Homo sapiens: one gene and its partners. The protein of the gene in region 1 purifies or fractionates together with the protein of each later gene. This does not show direct contact. Each region holds a gene or a part of one and is shown in the gene's direction. Other genes may lie near its edges.

Region 1 (7,000 bases):
AGTTCCACACTCTAGGGCAGTTGCTGATCTTATCTGAAGCCCTCATTGGGTGGTAAGCTCTAGACAGCAGGAGCATGATTTATACTGTGGTACTGGATTGTGTGCTTAGCAGGTGCGTGTGTGTGGCTGTGATTCAGGGGATGCTGTGGGGGTGGGCTGAGGTTTGAAATCCGGCCGTGAAAGTAGGTGAGATGCAGCCGTGCACGGATGGGCGTCGCTGCCTTAGAAGCCGACATAGGAAGAGCCAGTGATGGACTTGAGCAGGGAGCAAGAAGCGACAAACCATAGCCTGTGGCCCGTAGCTGCCCCCACTCCGTGCTTTTGTAAATACAGTTCAGTGTAACAAAAGTGAGGCTCATTCCTTACCTTGGTAGAGTTGAGAAGCTGCTACCCTAAAGCCTGCACAGCCCAGAATATTCACTACCTGGCCCTTTACCAAAGAGTTGGCCATGCCTCCCGAGGAATATAAAGGAGAGAATGGTGGAAAGTTAACTGTGAAGGGTAGGCGGAGCCATAGCAAATACCTAGGAAGACATAGGGCAGAAAACGTGCAAGATGTCTACACTGGAAACTATGAGAAACATTGAGAGAAATTAAAGAGCCAGATCTGTGCATCTAAACTGTCAGCGCATCAGACTCCCTGGAGGCTGCGTCCAACACAGACTGACAGGCCCAGCGCCTGAGAGTTTCTAATGCGGCAGGTCTGGGATCGGACCCAGGAATGTTTCTGACAAGTTCACAGATGCTGCTTCTGGTCCAGACACCACACTTTGAGAACCACACATCTAAATAAATGAAGCCATGAGCCATATTCATGGGTCAAGAAAAGATCGCAGAGACATCAGTTCTCTGCAATTTGAGAAACTTTCATGCAAATCCCGCTTAAAGTCACCACAGGGGCATGCGTGTGTTTATGTGAATATGCAAATTGACAAACTGATACTAAAATTTATGTGGAAATAAAAAAGGACTAAGAAAGCTAAACAGACTTAAGGAAGACTTTAAGAACTCCAACAAAACTGGAGGACTCTGCCAGATATCAAGACTTACTATAGAATGGGCACAGTGGCTCATGCCTACAATAACACCACTTTGGGAAGCTGAGGCCAGAGGACTGCCTGAGCCCAGGAGTTCAAGATCAGCCTGGGCCATGTAGCAAGACTTTGTCTCTACAAAAAATATATAAAAATTAGCTGGGTATGGTAGTGTTTGCCTGTAGTTCCAGCCACTGGGGAGGCTGAGGTGGGAGGATCACTTGAGCTGGGGAGACCTAGGCTGCAATGAGCTGTGATTGTACCACTGCACTGTAGACTGGGCAACAGAGTGAGACACGGTCTCCAAAAAATCAACAAAAGGCATATACAAAACATCAATATTTCATTATGTATATGCAAATATTTCAAAATGTGAAAAAATCCAGAACACTTCTTATCCCAAACATTTCCGATGAGGAGTACTCACCTGTATTATGGAGAAAAAAAAGCTCAACATCATTAGTCTTCGTGGAAATGACACTGAAAATCACAGTGAAATATGACTGCATTCCTCTCCTTCAGGGCGCTAGAGCAACCAGCCCTGCCGAAAGCAAGTGTCAGTCAGTACAACCACTTCGGAAAGCTGTGTCCACCCACCCAAGCAGACACACATCTTCAGACCCGGCGATTGTGCATAGGTTTATATCCAACAGGTACGCATTGCTTATCTTCCCTAGCAATGTTCTGCCTGCCTACCTAACCCGTGCCTAGGTATCTCTCCTTTTCCTGAGACATCCTTCTTTCAGGATTAAGCTAATAAGACCAGGCTAGCTTGAGAAATTTGCATGTGTTCTTGTGTTTTCATCCCCAAAACAACAGTGTACTATGCTTTCAACTATAGTCTCTGAAATTGTGTAGACCACAGGCTCTGTATGGGCCTGGGAGTTAGATGCTTTGGGTAGGTGGGCATTTGAATACCTCTCAGATCACAGTGTGGAAAGCATCAGACTACACCACATGGATCAGCTCTCAATCACTTCTGATAAGACAAAAAAAATACATTAGCAGGGCACAGACGTGCACCTGTAGTCCCAGCATCTCTGGAGGCTGAGGCAGGAGAACCACTTGAGCCCTGGGGGCAGAGGTTACAGCGAGTCAGGATCGCGCCACTGCACTCAACAGCCTGGCAACGGGAGTGAAACCATCCCCCCCACAAAAAAAAAAAAAAGTACAGCAGAAGCAGAGTCCACACTCATAGCATTATAGAGTCAAATAGTCTATAAGGTTTATAAAAGCATCAGTCCGCATGTACCACCTCCATTTCCTACTCAATGGGAGGCAACAGCTCTTAACTCTACCTATTTGTTATTTACCTCCACTATTGACATATTGCTATATATCCTTTGTTTTTTTCATGTGTCTGTATTAAGTATGCACAATTTCAATCTGAGACAACTCTGTTATGGTGTCGGTGTGTATGTTGCTGTGCACAGATGATAGATAAATGCTTTCTCTCACATTAGTTTTTCTGTGGTTGCTCATGGTTTCGGTTTTGCTTGCATGGTTTCCTTTGCCACCCTTGGGCTTGTTGTGAACTAGACTACTTGCTGAGCGCACAGGTGGCTTCCTGGGGAGCCCTCGTTATTCTGGGATTCCCTGCAGCTTTCTCATGTGGACGCTTCTGTTACCTGGCTCCGTGTCTTCTGTCTGGGTTTACTCCGTGTTTAGAGGAACAGCTGCCCTTCCTGACTACCCTGCAGAGGCTTCCTCAGACAGGCTGACATGGGAGATCAGATTGAAGACCTTGCATGACTTAAAAACACCTTTATTCTTCCGTAGTTCTAATTAATAATCGGATTATGTATAGGATCCTAGTTCACAATTTATCCGGGTTTTGAGCCCCCATTGTCTCCCGGCTTCTGGTGTTGCTGCTGAGAAGTCTGTTGCTGTTTTCTGATTCCTGATCTTTTGTTTGTTTAAATTGTTTGGAAGTTATTTCAAACTTAATGAAGTTATAAGAATAGTACAGAGAACTCCCACCTACGCTTTAATTAGATTCACCAATTTTTAAATTTTTTCCACATTTTAACATGCGCTCTCTCTATATACACAACACACGCACACTTTATTTTTTCTGAACCATTTGAATGTAGTTGCTACATAATGCTCCCCTCAATACTGAAGTACATTTTAAAAACAAGGATACTATTCTCTTACGTAACTTAGGCAGTTATCAAATTCTGATTTCTGAATTTTTTTTTTCTTTTTTTTTTTTTTGAGACAGAGTCTTGCTCTGTCACCCAGGCTGGAGTGCAGTGGTGCAGTCTTGGCTCACTGCAACCTCTGCCTCCCAGGTTCAAGTGATTCTCCTGCCTCGGCCTCCTAAGTAGCAGGGATTACAGGTGCACACCACCATGCCCGGCTAATTTTTGTATCTTTAGTAGAGACAGGATTTTACCATGTTGGCCAGCCTGGGCTCGAACTCTGGAGCTCGAGTGATCCACCCACCTCGGCCTCCCACAGTACTGGGATTACAGGCGTGAGCCACCGCACCTGGCTTCTGATTTCTGATCTTTTGTATGTGACCTGCTTTTTCACTCTGGGAAGCTTTCCAGATCTTTTCTTGGCTTTCAGTATTCTGAAATGTCACAATGATGCATACCTTGGCATGGGTCTGTTTGATTTTTATTCATTAGGTTGTACACTAAGGACCCCTTTCAGTTTGGAAACTCACCTGTTCCTGTTTAGGGGCATTTCCCTGAATTATTTTATTTTATAATTTCTTCCTCTCATTTTCTCTGATTTCTCTCTCTGGAACTCTCATTATTCACATAGTGGCCCTCCCAGATCCATCCTTTGATTTTCTTATCCTTTTTTTTCATAGTTTTCTGATTTTACAACTTTATCTTTTAGGCTTTTATTTAGTTTTTCATTTTTTTGTGCTGTTAGTATTTTTTATTTATTTCTAAGTCTTCTTTTGTCCTGTAAAGAAAAAAAATCATGCTGTTTATGGATTCAGTATCCCCTCTTATCTGACAACTGATGATAGCCTTTTTGAAGTTTTCCATCACTCCACATAGTTCATTTCCTGTAAGTTGCTTTTCTATCCTTTGATTTTGATAGCTGTTTCACATTAACAGTTTTCCTCAGATGCTCGGTGGTTATTAGATATCTGCGCATACTCCAGAGTAGGACAGTAAGAAACTGCTGCGCAGTTCTACACTGGGATTCGTTGACTGTAATCTTTACCTGTGGATTGATCTTGCTGGGGAACCCTTGGGATCAGCCTTTTTTGGCTCTTGGATTCCTCGGGTTCCCCAGAGATGACATGCACAGTCCTCCATCTGGAGGGCGGTCACTTGGCTGCACTGACAGCCCACACTGTTAACACGGCACTCCACCGTCAGCTTTGCTCCGTGGCCCCACTTCAGGGTTCCTCTGTCACCTTTTTCGAGAGTAACTGGCGAGTTTTGTGCCGGGATGAGCTCATTGCTTCTGAAAGAGACTTTCAAACAGTTCAGCTCTCTTCACCGTCACCTTGCCCACACTTCCAGAGCCGCTCAGCACCTCCAGGGCCTGAGCTTCTGGGCAGTTCTTCGGGATGCAGCAGGTGGGTCACTGGCTTTCCTGGGCCTTCTCAGTCAGTTTCCACCTGTCCTGCTCTCCGGCTGCCCTGCTTTTGGCTGTTGGATTCTTCAGGTTCCCCAAAGATGATGCGTGCTCCACCATCTCTCTTCCTGTTATTTTGTCATTGTGATTTGTGCCTTAAAAAAAAAATCCCTTCGTTTTAGTACGGTTTCTGGTGAGAAAGGAGATAAATATGTGAGTTCAATCCACCATCTTTAAGCAGAGGTTTCCCGTGATTATGGAAAAACAAGTGTGTTGGATAGCCGTAGGCTGACTGCAGCTCTCCAGTGTGCTCCCGAGAGGGTGCTTTTTGTCATTGACTTGCTAGGAACCCCAAGGCGAGGGCCCGTTATAACAGCTTTGAGGCTCTGTTGTTTGCTCTGCCTTTCGGAACACGTTCTCTTCCATCTGGGTGATGGAGAGGCACACGCAGGCACTGTGTGGCAGGGTACTCTCGGGACACAGTGAGTTCCGCCCTGGGCTGTGGACCAATCCCAACTTTGCTTCAGCTTTTGTCTCTTTAGTGAAGCCAGTGTTTGTTTTCTCTCTTCTGTTCCCAATCCCTGTACTCTAGGATGATGAGAGCCTGAAGTACCTCACCCATGAGGAAAAGGATGTGCTCCTGTTTTTTGAAGAGACGATTGACTCCCTAGACGAGGACTTTGAGGAGCCAGTGCTGTGCGATGGAGGAGTGTGCTGCCTCTGCTCCCCGTCTCTGGAGGAGAGCACCTCCAGTCCCTCCGAGCCTGAAGATGTCATCGACTTAGTGCAGCCAGCACCTGGCGCCGGGGAAGCCGAGGGCCTTCCAGAGGGGACCCAGGCAGCAGGTGAGGGGGAAGACAGGCCATCCCTGGGATGTGGTTTCCTGGTGTCTGTGAGACCCAGAGATACTTCTTTTGTGTTCCCCTGTGTTTGCCAGTAGAAGTTGTTGAGTCTTACCAGATTTTTATAGGGGAAAATACTCCTTGGCAGTTTCATCATCCAGCAAAGGGAAATGCCAGAGGGCCTAGAATAAAGAATGGAATGGGCCAGGCGCGGTGGCTCAAGCCTGTAATCCCAGCACTTTGGGAGGCTGAGGCAGGTGGATCATGAGGTCAGGAGATTGAGACCATCCTGACTAACACAGTGAAACCCCGTCTCTACTAAAAAATACAAAAAATTAGCCAGGCATGGTGACGGGTGCCTGTAGTCCCAGCTACTCAGGAGGCTGAGGCAGGAGAATGGCGTGAACCCGGGAGGCAGAGCTTGCAGTGAGCCGAGATTGTGCCAGTGCACTCCAGCCTGGGGGACAGAGTGAGACTCCGTCTCAAAAAAAAAAAAAAAAAAAAAAAGAATGAACTGGGCACATAAGCAGAGTTTACATTTTTTTAAATACACAATGCATACATGCACAGAAAGAAAATTGGAAATGGCTTCCAGGTAATTATTCTATTTTACAGGCTGGGCGCCATGGATCACTTGAGGCCAGGAGTTCAAGACCAGCCTGGCCAACACGGTGAAATCTCATCTCTACTAAAAATACAAAAATTAGCTGGCGCACACCTGTAGTCCCAGCTGGTCCAGAGGCTGAGGCACAAGAATCACTTGAACCTAGGAGGCAGAGGTTGCAGTGAGCTGAGATCGTGCTACTGCACTCCAGCCTGGGTGGCAGAGCGAGACCCTGTCTCAAAAAAAGAAAGAGAATCTCATACCACTGCTGACGTGGCAGGAGGTGGAGCTCGGTAATGCGAGCCATGGGTAGAGGCTGTAGATACAAATGAAGCTTCACTCGCTCACCACTCACGTCCTGCTGTGCGCCCCAGTTCCTAACAGGCCAGACCAGTACCAGGGTTGTTGGGGATCCCTGAGCTGGAGGGAAATGGGCAGAGAGAAATATCTTCCAGTTTTTTTCCCCGATTGGAAAGGATACTGAAAACAAATGTGGCCAAGGGTTTAACATTGGAAGGGATGAGGAAACATTACTTTTGCCCTGGTAAGGATAAAATACTGTCATTTGTCTTGAGCCACTAGAAATAAAGTGTGTACACGTGTGTACACATGTATGTCTTTCAAGCAAGGCTATGTATTACTCAGAACTTCACATACTACGGTTATGGATTCCATGTAAATATGGAGCTTGGTTTGCAGCCATCTCTTCAAAGAGGAGAAGTAATGTACTGTTCTTTTTTACTGTACTTCTGCTTTGAAATAGAGTTCCAAAAGTAATTTGAACCAGCCGATCCTTTTAAAATGTGAGATCACGTAGTCATGCCAAGGAAAACACTCTTTGAAAAATCAGCTACACCTGTCCATCTGTTCTCTAACATATTTTCATAACAATTTTTCTTTCATTTTTCTGAGACAGGAACTCTCTCTCCCACCCAGGCTGGAGTGCAATGGCACAGTCCTGGCTCACTGCA
Region 2 (7,001 bases), on another chromosome or scaffold:
TACAAGGTCTAAATCAAGGTGGTGGCTGGAATGAACTCTTACCTGGAGGCTCTGGAGGAGAATCCGCTTCTGGGTGCATTCAGGTGGCCCTGAAAGTCCAGCTCCTGGTGCCTGCAGACCTGGGGTCCTCATTCCATGGCTGGGGGCCACTCTCTGCTCCTATAAGTCACTCACACACCTTCTCACACAACCCCTTCCTCCTTCAAACCAGCAATGTTAATTCCAGCCTTTCTCACACATTGAATTTGACCTTCTTTTCTGCTGACAGCTGGAAAAGCTCCCTGCTTTCATTAGGCTCATGAGGTCAAGCCCACCAGATAATCTCTGATCTCAAGGTCAGATGGCTTGGGACTTTCATTCCTTCGTCAAAGTCCCTGCACAGCAGCACCTAGGCTAGTGTTTAACTGAACAGCCAGGGGTACGAATCAGTGGGCCCACCTTTAGAATTCTGTCTGCCACACCCATCATATCGTATCTTTCTAAATTTGCTTCTTTCAAAATTGAATAAAAGGATGAAAATCCACGCCCTCGCCAGAGGATCACAGCAATGCAGCTCATGGCAGCAATCACCCTGCGCTGGACACGTGTGGGTTCTGGCTTCAGCCTTGACGCAGAATCTGGGGTCAGGAGAAATACACAAGAGTTCTGCCTTCCTTTCACCCACATGACCTTGTGCAAGTCACCTAACCTGGCTGAGCCCGGTCCCCTCCTCGCCACAGATGGGCTGATCCACAAGAGGACATCTTTGAAGCACCCAGCACACAGCCTGGTACCCCGGCAGTGCTCAGCTGCTATGAGCACCGCGCCCACGGTCGACAGACTGTCAGACCATCTGCACGACCTTTTTTTCTTTTTAAAAACACCACTCAATCCTTGTTAGGGGCACCACGTGCTGTACAGTCGGCTCTTCCGGCACCCCCAGTCCCTGGCTAGCCCACCCATGCCCATTGCTGGACATGTGCTCAGACGACTGATCCAAGAGTCTTCCATACAGGCAGCTTCACCTCCACGTGAAGATAACTTGCACTGTGGTGCAGTTCCAGACCTCAAGGAGCTACCTGACCAGGTAGGTTCCCAAGAGCAGACTGCCTTTGGAGCAGTTCCTGAAGTGGCCACGAGGTGGCAGGCCTTTCCCTGGCAGATCAGAGAAATCCCGCAGTTCCAGATACAGACACAGGGCAGGGCATGGCCTGGCCTCAGCGGAGGTTCACAGTCCCCAAGGTGGCATCCCCTCTGGGACGACCTGTGCTTATCTGTCTTGAGGCACAGCAGCTACAATTCTTCATCAGGATCGGAGCTGCAAGACGCCCATCTGATTCCTTCCGAGCCCCAAAGGAAGGAAATGAACATGTTTCTTTTTTAAATCTCACAACAAATAATGTCTCAGTTCTACAGGTGAGCAGATCCAAGGTTGAAAGCAATGAAGTTACTTGGTCACAGCCAATAAGAAACATGAGATACTGTTTTGTTTTGTTTTGTTTTGTTTTTGTTTGTTTTTTGAGACGGAGTCTTGCCCTATTGCCCAGGCTGGAGTGCAGTGGTACCATCTCGGCTCACTGCAACCTCTGCCTCCCGGGTTCAAGCGATTCTCCTGCCTCAGCCTCCCGAGTAGCTGGGATTACAGGTGCCCGCCACCATGCCCAGGTAATTTTTTTCTTTTTTTGTATTTTTTTAGTACAGACGGGTTTTCACCATGTTGGCCAGGCTGGTCTCGAATTCCTGACCTCAGATGATCGACCCGCCTCGGCCTCCCAAAGTGCTGGGATTACAGGCATGAGCCACTGTGCCCGGCCGAGACACTTTTAAATTTTATTGCAGAAAGGCTGGGTGTGGTGGCTCACGCCTCTAATCCTAGCACTTTGGGAGGCTGAGGAGGCCGGACTGCTTGAACTCAGCAGTTCGAGACCAGCCTGGGTAACATGGTGAAACCCCGTCTCTACTAAAAAGACGAAAAATTAGCCAAGCATGGTGGCACACACCTCTAATACCAGCTACTAGGGAGGCTGAGGCATGAGAATCGCTTGAACCGGGAGGCAGAGTTTGCAGTGAGCTGAGATCGCGCCACTGCACTCCAGCCTGGGCAACAGAATGAGACTCTGTCTCAAAATATATATATAAAATAAAATAAATTTTATCGCAGAAAACTACAAACATATGCAAAAGAAAATCGTCATAACTCCTATGGCATTCATCACCCAGCTTCAACCGTTACTAACATTTGCCACTTGTGTTTCACCTGTCCTTGAATTTTTTTTCATGGAGAATTTACAAAGCGAATACCAGACATAGGGGCAATTTGCTGTAAATACTTCCGTTTGCATCTCTAAAGGTTAGGACATTTTACCCACCAGCCGTTACTGCTCCCTACCAAAAGTATCGATACTCCCAGTTTTCATCTAATACCCAGCTTTATATTCCAATTTCCCCCACCTATCTCTCAAATGCCCCGTTTAAGCTAGTTTATTCTATCATGATCCAAGTAAGTTCCACACATTCCATTCAATGACGTCTTTTAAGCTCATTTATTCTCTAATAGTTCAGTTCCACTTTCTTTTGTTTCCTCCAGGCTCGAATTAATTATATTATCATCATAATTATACTATTATCTTAATTATTGGTATTAATTGACACGGTCATTTGTCCTGTACAACATCCCATTTGGGGTTTAGCTGTTTGCGTCTTTCTGCAAGGGGCATATTACCTGGCAAACAGTAGGTATTAATCAGCATGGGTTGAATGGTTTCAATGGCAGAAAAGCAAAAGAATAAAGGTTTGGTCCTTTACTCAAGTGGTCCTACATTCACTAATGTAACAAGCAGGCAAAACTCCGCTTGAGAAGCCACCAGCTCGCGCCCTGGGATCCTGGGGAGGGCATGGGCTCCAGCCCTGGGATCCCGGGGAGGGCACAGGATCGAGCCCTGGGATCCCGGGGAGGGCAGGGACTCTAAGTCTGGGATCCTGGTGAGGGCACGGGCTACAGCCCTCAGATCTTGGCCGCCAGAACTGCACTCCAGGCCACGCGGTGCTGAAGCGGGAGCCAGGCCCTATCTCCTGCGGGAACCCCGCTTGGGGGCCGGCACCGGGGCCATAAGAACACGCGGCCCTCTGTTCTTGGGGGTATGCGCTACAGCAGCATGGACCTCGGTCAGGTTATGAAAACGTGTGCATTTATGAGCTTTAGTTGTGCCCCAATGTTTTCTATGCGCTGTTCTTAGTCTGTTTTTCGTGTTTTGAGAAAACTGAAGATAACAGAAAGGTACAAAACACACGCCCATATTCCCATCATCCAGCATCAAAACCGCCAACATTTCGTCCCATTTGTTTCCCGGGTTTTGTTTCCTGTTTCACCAGAAATCACTGGTGGAGACGGAGACCCCAGTGCCTTCTCTCCGCCTCGGGCGCCTGGAGAAGCAGCTTCGGGGTCGGGGCGCCCTCCCAAGCGGTTGCCTCCGCGGTTCTCAAGCAACTACGCCGCCGTTTGGGTGGCGCTCGCGCCGAGACTTCATTTTCATTTAGCAAACATGGAGTGCTCCGCGCCGCTCTGGAGCCGGGGTGTGAGGGTGAACAGGGCTCCCCACGCTCGTTCCCAGAGCAAAGGAAGGCCCGCGGTGTCAGCGCAAGGGCGGGTGCGGGCCGGGAAACGACAAGCTGCCGCCTCACTCCTACCCAAAACCAGGCTCTGAAGTCCCTCCCGGCCCGCGACGCGCGCGCCCCACCCCGGCGCTGGCCCCGCCCCCTCACGCTGCCTCCTCATTGGCTCCTCCCGGCATCGCCACGCCCACAGGAGGCTCCTCCCAATGCTCACTTCACCTTTCACCTCTTCAGGGCCTCCGGTACGCCTCAGGCCCCGCCCACCGGGGGGTGGGGAAAGATGCTCTTCCGTGACCCACAATTATTGGTGACTATTGCCTGTCCATAACAGGAAAAGCGATTACGGATTGGCTGAGGCGAAGTAGTAGGGCAGAAAAGTGGGTATAGCTGCCTGCACGCACGCTTGGTGCGTGCGCGGCGACTGCGACGGGCAGTGGCAGTCATGGCGGCTCAGTGCGTGAGGTTGGCGCGGCGCAGTCTTCCTGCTTTGGCGTTGTCTCTCAGGTAAGGGGCACTTGGTCTCCCTGGGTGGAGGTGGCAGCGCGACCTCCCGCTCCGATGGGGGCCTTTCCCGGCCCCGGGGCCTCCTTCCCGGCCTCGGCCCCGGAGCTGGGCATCTCCGGGCTCGCGGTTCCCCGCCGCGGGACGCGGACCGCCCCGCTGGGGCCTGCTCTGCTGCCAGGCTGCCAGCTCAGGGCTTGGGAAGCGTGGAGCGGGCGGGCGCCGTGTCAGGAGGAGAGGACCGCAGCGCGGGGGGCGTTTGGCTCGGAAGGTACGGTGGCCCACGTGCGCGTGTGGTCCAGGGCCTGCGGCGACGCCTCGCGCGCATTCACGGTCTCGGCGCTCACGGGCGCAGAGGCAGCCGCAACTTGTGCGGTTGAAGAAGCGACCAAAGAAGCTCGAGCTTTGTCCAAGGTCACGCAGCGAGGCCGAGCCGGGCCGGGTGTGCCCTGGGCAGGAGCTGTGGTTACTCATTTCCGTGCCGCAGCTCGAGGCCGGGGCCACAGCGGTGCTCGGGAAACTTCGTGTCGCAAGGTGCGTGTTGCCCGTTCACGGGCTTTTTCCACTCGACCTCGAATTCCTTCACTCCGCCTTCTCCAGCGTCTGAGGTCAAAAGAGCAGTCGAACCTGTGCTGCTGCTGGGCGAAGAGTTTGTTTAGACAAGGGCACATTTCGGGCCTGAGGGCCACGAGACAGTGCCCCTTTTTTTTTTTCCCCTCAAATCTGCCCCTTCTGCTTTTTGAAAGTTCTACTTTAGAAGTTAGTATGGCAAGTACTTGCTGGAGGAAGTGCCTAGAACCAAGTTATTGATTAGAGAAGCCACTGAGGGCCAAATTGGCCAAAAGCTGGGCAGTGAGATGTAGTTCTTTCCTGAAGGAGAGCAGGCAGGTGAGGTGAAGATCACTTTCAGTCTAGGTGATTAAGGGGTAAGTGCTAGCTTAATAAATTATATCTTAACAACACAGGAGCCAAGAGCAACGACCCACGTGGAATACTTGAGTAAAAAGACTTTGGTCAAGTAATTGGTGGTTTTGTATTGGAATTAATTGCCAGGAAAGTGACCACCAAGTCAGCATCATTTCTGTCTCTAGAATGGTAGTTTTGTGGAAAGATGCTCAACTAGGGAAAGGCAGGAGAACTGACTGGTAGTCATAGCTCTCAGAGTAACTAGGCTTTCTGAGACTCAGTTTCCCTCTGCAGAACGAGATGGCCCCGGGTGTGGGTCCTGTTGCACATTCCTGGCCACACTTTGTGTTGGCTGTGCTTCGGAAAGGGGTCTGTGAAGAGCTGACCTGCAGAAAGGCTGGTGGCTGTCACACCCCCAGGCAGAACAACTGGAGAGGAAGGTGGGCTTCACAACAGTACACTCAGTTTTTATTTAAATTCTTAGCTTTTTAAATTCACAAGAGTAAAAATATAAAATGGTCATCGCTCTCCACCCCCATGGCAAGACTGTAATGGAGGCTTCCACTCCACTTCTTTCCACAGATCTAAGATATTAATAAGTACACAGGATTTCTAGTTTGTCTTTACAAAAATAGGATCCTGTTTTGTGTATTTCTCTGTAAGTTGCATTTCTTAACAGAACATCCAAAGTGTATCCAATAAATGGCAGTTTAACTCATTTTTAGGAGCTGCATAATATTCCAGATTGTGTTAGCAAGTTTATTCAACCATTTGCTCGCTGACAAACATTGTTTCCAACTTGTCGCTCGCAGTGCTGCAATAAACAGCCTTGACTGAGTTCTGTGTGCTGGCAGCCTTCACCTTCCTATTCGTTGAAGCAGTTTTAATCTGGGAAGAAAATTGAATGTAGCTTATTCTCAGATAGGACTGTGGCCTAATTTAAAAAGAGGTCCTGGCCGGGTGCGGGCGGATCACGAGGTCAGGAGATCCTAGACCATCCTGGCTAACACAGTGAAACCCCGTCTCTACTAAAAAAATACAAAAAAATTAGCCGAGCGTGTTGGTGGACGCCTATAGTCCCAGCTACTCGGCAGGCTGAGGCAGGAGAATGGCGTGAACCCGGGCGGCGGAGCTTGCAGTGAGCCGAGATGGCACCACTGCACTCCAGCCTGGGTGACAGAGCAAGACTCCGTCTCAAAAAAAAAAAAAAAGAGGTCCTCTGGTCCTGGTGAAGAAATCTAGGTTTTAAGACTTTATTTTATCATTCGTTGATGGCTTTGTGACCTGGGCTTATCACTTGGTCTTGGTCTATTTCACCGGTACATATCCCATGCTTTCCTGTCTTCATGCCTTTGTCCAAGCAGTTTCATCTTCCTGAAGCTGCATCTATCCCATTGTCCCACCTCTGATCCCTTTTTCGTAACTCTTACCTATCCTACAAAGCCTTTCATGGTTTTCCATTCCCCAAGCTAGGTATCTCCTTCTACTCTGAGCCTCCCAAAGCACAAAGCACTTAGTTCCCTTTTTTTTTTTAATCACTTTTTTTTTTTTTTGAGACAGAGTTTCCCTCTTGTCGCCCAGGCTGGAGTGCAGTGGCGCGATCTCAGCTCACCTCAACCTGCGCCTCCCTGATTCAAGCGATTTTCCTGCCTCAGCCTCCCAAGTAGCTGGGATTACAGGCATGCACCACCACGCCAGGCTAATTTTGTATTTTTAGAAGAGACGGGGTTTCTCCATGTTGGTCAGGCTGGTCCCGAACTCCTGATCTCAAGTGATCCACCTGCTTTGGCCTCCCTAAGTGCTGGGATTACTGGCGTGAGCCAGCGAACCTGTCTTAATCACTTTTAAATCACAAATTACTGTTCTTTGTGTTTAGATACCTTTTTTTTGCAAGATCTCTGCTGGGTCTATCTTTGTCATCAGGATCAGCAGTAGGCCAGCCTCACTCTAGTAGTAGCTATTCCATAAGTACGTGGTTAGGTCTGGGCAGACTGTCTCAGTCA
Region 3 (7,000 bases), on another chromosome or scaffold:
CCCGGGAGGCGGAGGTTGCGTTGAGCTGAGATTGTGCCGTTGCACCCCAGCCTGGGCGACAGAGGCAGACTCCGTCTCAAAAAAAAAAATAAAATAAAAAAATAAAGCAGAGTGAATTCAGGTGGCCTAGGCAAGGATGCTTGAAAAATAACAACCATGTTAGTATAAACACCATTTTTCAATGTTTTGCAAATCATTTTTATGCCTCTTGATTCTTACCGGTACCGTTTGAGATGTAGATGATATTATACCATTTTGTAGATGTGGAGACCAAGGAAGACTTAACTGACCAAGGTGAGATCATATATTATGTGGCAAATTTGTGATTGGAAACTACTACTCCTCCTACTCCCACTCATCATGCAGTGTTACTGTTTTATGGTTACTTTTGCAAACATTAAAGTTTATCTCATTGCTAGTTAGATTGGCTAAAGAAATTAGAAATAGGAGGCTGATTTTTTAATTTATTCAATCAGCAACCCTTATTGAACTTTCATGTGCCAGGTCCTAGGGGAGGGGTTGAAAGTGGTAGATCTGAATGAGGTTACCATTTAAAGTAAATGTTTAATGAAAGTTGCTGAAGCCTTTGCTTTTTTTCTCTTAAACCCCAGTTTTATATTTCAGTAGGGGAAAAAAATAGACATCAGAAACTGAATGAATATAGTGACGAATAAACATAAAGAAATCAGGCTGATCTGTGGCTATAAGTACTCCGTCTTTCATTGAGCATTTGTTGTTTCACTCAATTGAGATTAAAAGAAAAGCTTCAGATGGAGGCAGGAACACCAATCGGCTTTGAGTTTGCAGAAATGTGATTTAAAAATGAGATTTTGGTTTGCACATTTCTGTTACAAAATTTTATCAGTCACTTTTCAACTTTTCTGAACCGTGACCCATGTAAGAAATATATTTTACATCAGGATCAAAAACAAGTTTCAGGAGACCGTACTAATCCTTACTACGGGTTGAGTATCCCTCATCCAAAATGCTTGGGACCACAAGTGTTTCGAATTTTGGAATATTTGCATTATATGCTTGTTGAACATCCGAAATCAGAAGTGCTCCCAATGAGCATTTCCTTTGAGTGTCATGTTGGCGCTGAAAAGTTTCATATTTTGGAGCATTTTGGATCAGGGATGCTCAGCCTGTGCTTGTGATGTGCTGTTGTGGTATATTTAAAAAAGGAGCTGGTTGCAACACTAGATTGATTTCACAGCCCACTGATTCCTGACCCACAGTTTGAAAAATACTGAATTATATACGTCACATGTATTGCATATTGCAGGGCCTGGTTAATTTACCATGTTTTGAAGTTGTAAGTTTAACATAGTTTCATATTTGAAAATACAGATAATTTAGAGGAATAGCTTAAAAACCTGAAGTTTGTCTTGTTAACATCATCCTGTCCCCCTCGTTCCCCTTCTGTTTTTCTTGCTGCTTGGATAAATAGACCTTTGCTGAGAATGCCCCTTGCATCAGGATAGTGAGACTGGTGTCTAATGGCCAGTCTGGGAACATGGGGAGCTTTTCTCAAGTGCTCTGCTCCACCCTAGGGAAGCCTGTGCACTCTGGGAGTCTGGGAAATGAAGGCAAACACAGGACAGCTGCATTTAATTGTGGCTTAAGTGCTCTTGTACTTTTTTTTCTTGTTAGTGTCACATTTCCACGGGTTCTTTTCCGTTCCTTCCTTGGGAGGTGCCTGCCCAGTTACCCTGTTACCATCTGCACCCTGGGGGAAGGTTGGTGTGTCACTGGGTGTGGACAGTCAGGACATCCGAGACGTGGGTTCGGAGAGCACCTTGGGGACTTGCTGAACTGTGGAGTGTGCTCTGGTGACTGACAGCATTGGACTGCACAGGGGAGCCTGCAGAGTATAGTGCCCGGAGTCGTTGGAGGCAGAGTTCAGAGCCTCAGTCCATCCTGTCCTCAAGAGGTCGGCTGCCTGCTTTGGGGCATGTGCTCTAAGAAGGTTGCAGTGACTGAGGACACAGTGAGCAAAGGCACATGGTTGGAAAGCGGTGACACAGCTTCTGGTGGGCTAGATCTAGATCGGTCCTGGAGCTGAAGAGGCAGTGGGGTGCCTGTGGGCCTGGGGGAGGCCTTGCATCTGTAGACAGCCGGAAGTATGGCACATTTTTGAGCAGATGATCTCCTGTTCTTTGGGGCTCCTGCTTTCTCAGGTGTGGGGAGTGCTGGGTGCCCCTTTAGAAGGCATTGCAGCACTTCAGGGAAGAGGAAGCCCAGGGATGCGAGTGGGGAGCCCAGGTGTCAGTAGGACAGCCTAAGTGGATTTTTTTAGCATTCACTCAGCTTCGTGGCTTGAACTCTCAGTGAACATTTTATAGTATCTCATTACTCCTCTTGCTTTATGATCCTTTTTGCTGATCAGTGCTAAAGAGTAATAAGTACTCAGTTACTGTTAGTTACTGTTTTGTTAGTTAGTTGCCTATGTAAGTGTCAAAAAAACAAAAAACCTATTTTGAATACTCCGTGTTCCAAAATGTAACAATGGTAAGAATTTGTTTTGCTTGAAAGTGTTCTTTTTTGAGGGGGAGGATGGTCACAAGGTTTTTTTAAATTAGAAAAACCCAAACTTTTGGAGGAGTCCAGTCTCAGATCTGGGAGTATTCTTGATAGCATGTCACATAAAAGCAAGTGACCTTCAAGTAGGAATTGGTCAGATGAGATTTTCTAGCTTGCTAACTGTGCTGAGCAGTTATGGGCAGGTGGCGGCTGGCATCATTGCTTTCCCACCCTCTTTCTGACTTTGATGCTCTTCTTGGAGCTACGGTCTGATGCGTAGAGCTGAGCTGCCTAATGTGGTGCAGGTTGAGTTTCATTTTCAGTTCAGTATTTTTCCAGGACCCTGGTGCAAGATGCAGGGTGAGCAGTTACTGAAGGGAGGAGCCTGTCGATGGTCACTGCTACTTTCTGCTGTGCTTGTGCGGTTACACACACTCTAAAGCCGCAGTCCAGGCGTCCGATGGTCTCCTGAGAAACGGGCCCCTTAGCTCTTTATTTGGGCGATTACTCCCGATGATTCAGAGCTGCCCTTGTGGAAGCTCCTTACCTGCAGGAAGTGGACCACACCCAAGCCACCTTTCTGTGCCTTTTAATGCCTTAGCTCAGCTGATTATCATTAATGGAATCTTGTGGGTGGTGTGAGTGCAGGAAATAGAAGTTGCACTCTATTATCCATGTCTCATCGCGTAGAATCAGCCACTGTCGTCGGAGTAGTTTGTAGCAGTCATTTCCCATAATTCATGTTTTTGCAGTGGAAATTATAAAAAATATAAGTGCCAAATGCTTTGGGAAAAATAACCTGCCTCCTGAGGGTGACTATGGAGTTTCTTAATCCTAAATGGCTCCCTGGTTTGCAAGGTTTAAATTAGGGGAAATAAACTGAGATATGCCTTTGCTTGGTACAAACTGTGAAACATCCCAAATTGGTGGTTACCAGTCACTTTATGCGCACCCAGGGAACAACATTGTTGACTCTAGAGACCTTCCATTGTGTTTCTTGAGGGTTCTTCGTCAGCAAAAGAAACCTTTTCTGTTCTGCGCTCTGTTGGTATCTGAATACATTGTGGGAACATTTCAAGTTTTAAATTAATGCTTACCAAGTACGTAGCTGGGGTTTATCTTCCTATTATTTTAAGTCTCTTCCTGTTTTTTAAGAGAATTTTAGGCCGTAAGGTTTGAAAGAACTGTTACAGGTCCACATCCTTTGTTTTATTTGTAATTACTTAGGATTTTGTTTAGTTTCTATTTAGAAATGTCTAATGGGTAGTTTTGTAAGGTTGGTTGGGAAAGATAGCAGCTGCTTCCACCTCCCGCCATTTCTTATTCCCCGAGGGCAGCCCCTTTGATCTCTCCTGGTTGATTTTTGTTTTTGTTACTCCTTAGTTTATGAGGAACATTAAAAAATTGACCGGGGGCGGTGGCTCACGCCTGTAATCCCAGCACGTTGGGAGGCTGAGGCAGGTGGATCACTTGAAGTCAGGAGTTCAAGACCAGCCTGGCCAACATGGTGAAACTCTGTCTCTACTAAAAATACAAAAAAAACAGCTGGGCGTGGTGGTGGGCGCATGTATTCCCAGCTACTTGGGAGGCTGAGGCAGGAGAATTCTTTGAACCTGGGAGGCGGAGGTTGCAGTGAGCTGAGATGGTGCCACTGCACTCCAGCCTAGGTGACAGAGTGAAACTCCATCTCAAAAAAAAAAAAAAAAATTTCTGCCTGTGTTTTTTTTTTTTTCCTGGTTTCAGGCATTGTCTATAGACTTTGGACCCTGCGGATGAGGATTTACTTCTCTTCCGCTTGCCTCTTTTCCTCACATGGGCTCCCCGCTCTCCCCCAGCAGAGAGATGTTGTAATGTCAGTGAGGTCAGAATGCGGTGTGTACATTAATGGACTGCAGACGGATCTGCAGCCCAGCCATTATTACTCAACCATAGTTACTGATCAGATTTCTTTTCTTTTGGTAATGCTTCTCATTCATCCCAGCACTCTGTAGTTGTTGCAACCTTGTCTTAGGAAGTTCGGGTGGCACCTGTGCCTTTCGTCACCTGCGTATCTTCTATGCTTCTTGTGCCACCCCCATCCTCTGGTCTTCCTTTGCTCTCATCCTCTGGGTTCCTTCTGCTGCTCTCTTGTGTTGAATATCTGTTTTGTTTTTTTTTGTTTTTTTTTTTTTGTCTCTGCTGTCATTTTCTTTCTTGGTTTATGCCATGATGTTGGTTGGGCATATAGTGCGCCATTTTCTGTGAATAGGCAGCGTGGGAGACAGGCTTTTCAAAAATTTTTTTTCTTCTCCCTCAGTTGATATTTTAGCATGGTGTAAAATTGCAGGGTGGACATTCATTTCCTCCAGAATTTTAAAGGTGTTTCTCCACTGTGTTTTAGCTTCCAGTGTTGCTGTTGAAGATGGAGGCCCTGCCAGCACCGGCTTCTGTGTGTGCAGGCTGTGCTGTTCTTCCTGGACCTAATGGGATCTGAACTTTTTCCTTGAGTTCTGAAGTTTCACAATGATGTGGCTTGGAGTGGGGCTGTTTTCGTTTCTCGTGACAGATACTTGGTTAGGCCTTTTCTGTGAAGCGACTCAGATCTTTTCATTGACTTTTTTCTTTGATTCCCCTCCCCCCTTCCATTTTCTGTGTTCTTTCTTTCTGAAACTTTATTACTTGGATGGTGAACCTTCTGCATCGGCCCTCAAATATTCTTTTATCTTTTTTGTTTTTCGAGATGGAGTCTCGCTCTGTCACCCAGGCTGGAGTGCAATGGCGTGATCTTCATTCACTGCAACATCTGCCCCCCCAGGTTCCAGTGATTCTCCTGCCTCAGCCTCCCGAGTAGCTGGGATTACAGGCGCCCACCACCATGCCTGGCTAATTTTTGTATTTTTTAGTAGAGATGAGGTTTCACCATGTGGAGCAGGCAGGTCTCGAACTCCTGACCTCAGGTGATCCACATGCCTCGGCCTCCCAAAGTGGTGGGATTACAGGTGTGAGCCACCATCCCCGGCCTTCATTCCCCATTTTTAAGTATGCTGCCTCTGCTTCCGGCTGTGTCTGCTGCAGCCTGGTCCATATATCCTCAATTTTTCCTTCCTTTGCAGATAATATATTTTCATCATTTCCTTGACTTTGGGAGCCTGGCTGTGAGATGTGGGGCAAGCTGTCTGGCTGTCTACCCACTTCTGTGGCTGACTTTGAGGCTCTGCCTGGTTCACTCATTCCCCCGGCAGAGGGACTGGTGCCGTCAGTTCCTGAGAGCCGGGGGTCCAGCACTGTGAGTTAAGTTAGTTCTCTGCTGGCCCGGCGCGATGGCTCATGCCTGTAATCTCAGCACTTTGGGAGGCCGAAGCGGGTGGATCATTTGAGGTCAGGATTTCGAGACCAGCCTGACCAACATGGTGAAACCCCTTCTCTACCAAAAACACAAAAATTAGCCAGGCGTGATGATACACGCCTGTAATCCCAGCTACTTGGCAGGCTGAGGCAGAATTGCTTGAACCCAGGAGACGGAAGTTGCAGGGAGCCGAGATCGCGCCATTGCACTCCAGCCTGGGCGACAGAGCGAGACTGTGCCTCCAAAAAAAAAAAAAGTTCTCTGTTTTCTGCACCTCCGGTTTAGCGTTGTCTTCCTCTACTCCCCACCCCCCCCCTTTTTTTTTTTAAACCACTACCTACTTTCCAGCTTCTGAGATTTCATTGCAGTTGTCTTCTCTCTGTTTCAGGTATGTGGTGGTTTTTAGATTTATGATTTTAGTGGGATTTCAGGATTGACCCAATTAGATGCTGCTGTCTGTGTGACCCCTCTACCTCCAAGTTGCTATTCTTCAGTTTATAGGTGAATAAAGACAGGGCCAGGCAGGTGAGGAAATTCCAAGAGCTAGGACTGACTGCTGGGCCAGGGCGGCGGGCAAGAACTCGGAGCCTCCGTTCTCTTCATCATGAGATTGTGCCTCTTATTTTCTCCCTGTAAATAAACAGCAGTATACATGTCTGCTTATTTTTCCATCTCTCTACTGGTCGGTGGCCTCCACCTCCCCAACTTGAACTGAGAACCTGCTCTTCTTGCTTCTCTCATTTTTTTGGTCCCAAGATCCTGTGGACACAGAACGATGTCCGGGAGCCTCATAGGATCTCTCTGGAGAAACGCTTGCTTAAGTTTATGATGCTTTGGGGTTCCAACCCCCTGGTCCAGAATTGAGTATGTGCTTCTTGGCAGGGCGGAGGTGGCATCAGTCTGGTCGTATGTTCCGTGGTGGTCGGTGCAGGACTGGGGCACACGTGTGCCACAGATGCCGAATAGCCCGTCAGAGGGCCTGGGTGTTATGTGGCTGTCCCAGTGGCCATGTGTTAGCAGATTGCATGTTGCAGAGTCAGTGGTGTCTGCGCGCTGGGGGCACTGCACAGCGCTGGCCATAAATCCATAGCATGTTAATGGATGGAGGACTTGAAGGGTGCGTATCTAAACAGCGAAAGCTCTTCTTTGGGG

Evidence for each region.
Region 2: the proteins of PROSER2 (region 1) and GRPEL1 purify together in Homo sapiens (affinity purification with mass spectrometry; 2 studies listed by BioGRID and IntAct, with this or other methods). This does not show direct contact.
Region 3: the proteins of PROSER2 (region 1) and STK24 purify together in Homo sapiens (affinity purification with mass spectrometry; 3 studies listed by BioGRID and IntAct, with this or other methods). This does not show direct contact.

Annotation. Positions count from the first base shown.
Region 1 is NC_000010.11:11,861,356-11,868,355, forward strand, and holds part of PROSER2 (proline and serine-rich protein 2), read left to right. Parts: exon of another isoform or gene 1-52; intron 53-1,461; exon of another isoform or gene 1,462-1,687; intron 1,688-5,175; coding exon 5,176-5,428; intron 5,429-7,000.
Region 2 is NC_000004.12:7,065,065-7,072,065, reverse strand, and holds the start of GRPEL1 (grpE protein homolog 1, mitochondrial precursor), read left to right. Parts: upstream 1-4,001; 5' UTR 4,002-4,033; coding exon 4,034-4,095; intron 4,096-5,439; exon of another isoform or gene 5,440-5,886; intron 5,887-6,878; exon of another isoform or gene 6,879-7,001. UniProt on the Homo sapiens protein: Essential component of the PAM complex, a complex required for the translocation of transit peptide-containing proteins from the inner membrane into the mitochondrial matrix in an ATP-dependent manner.
Region 3 is NC_000013.11:98,567,108-98,574,107, reverse strand, and holds part of STK24 (serine/threonine-protein kinase 24 isoform b precursor), read left to right. Parts: intron 1-7,000. UniProt on the Homo sapiens protein: Serine/threonine-protein kinase that acts on both serine and threonine residues and promotes apoptosis in response to stress stimuli and caspase activation.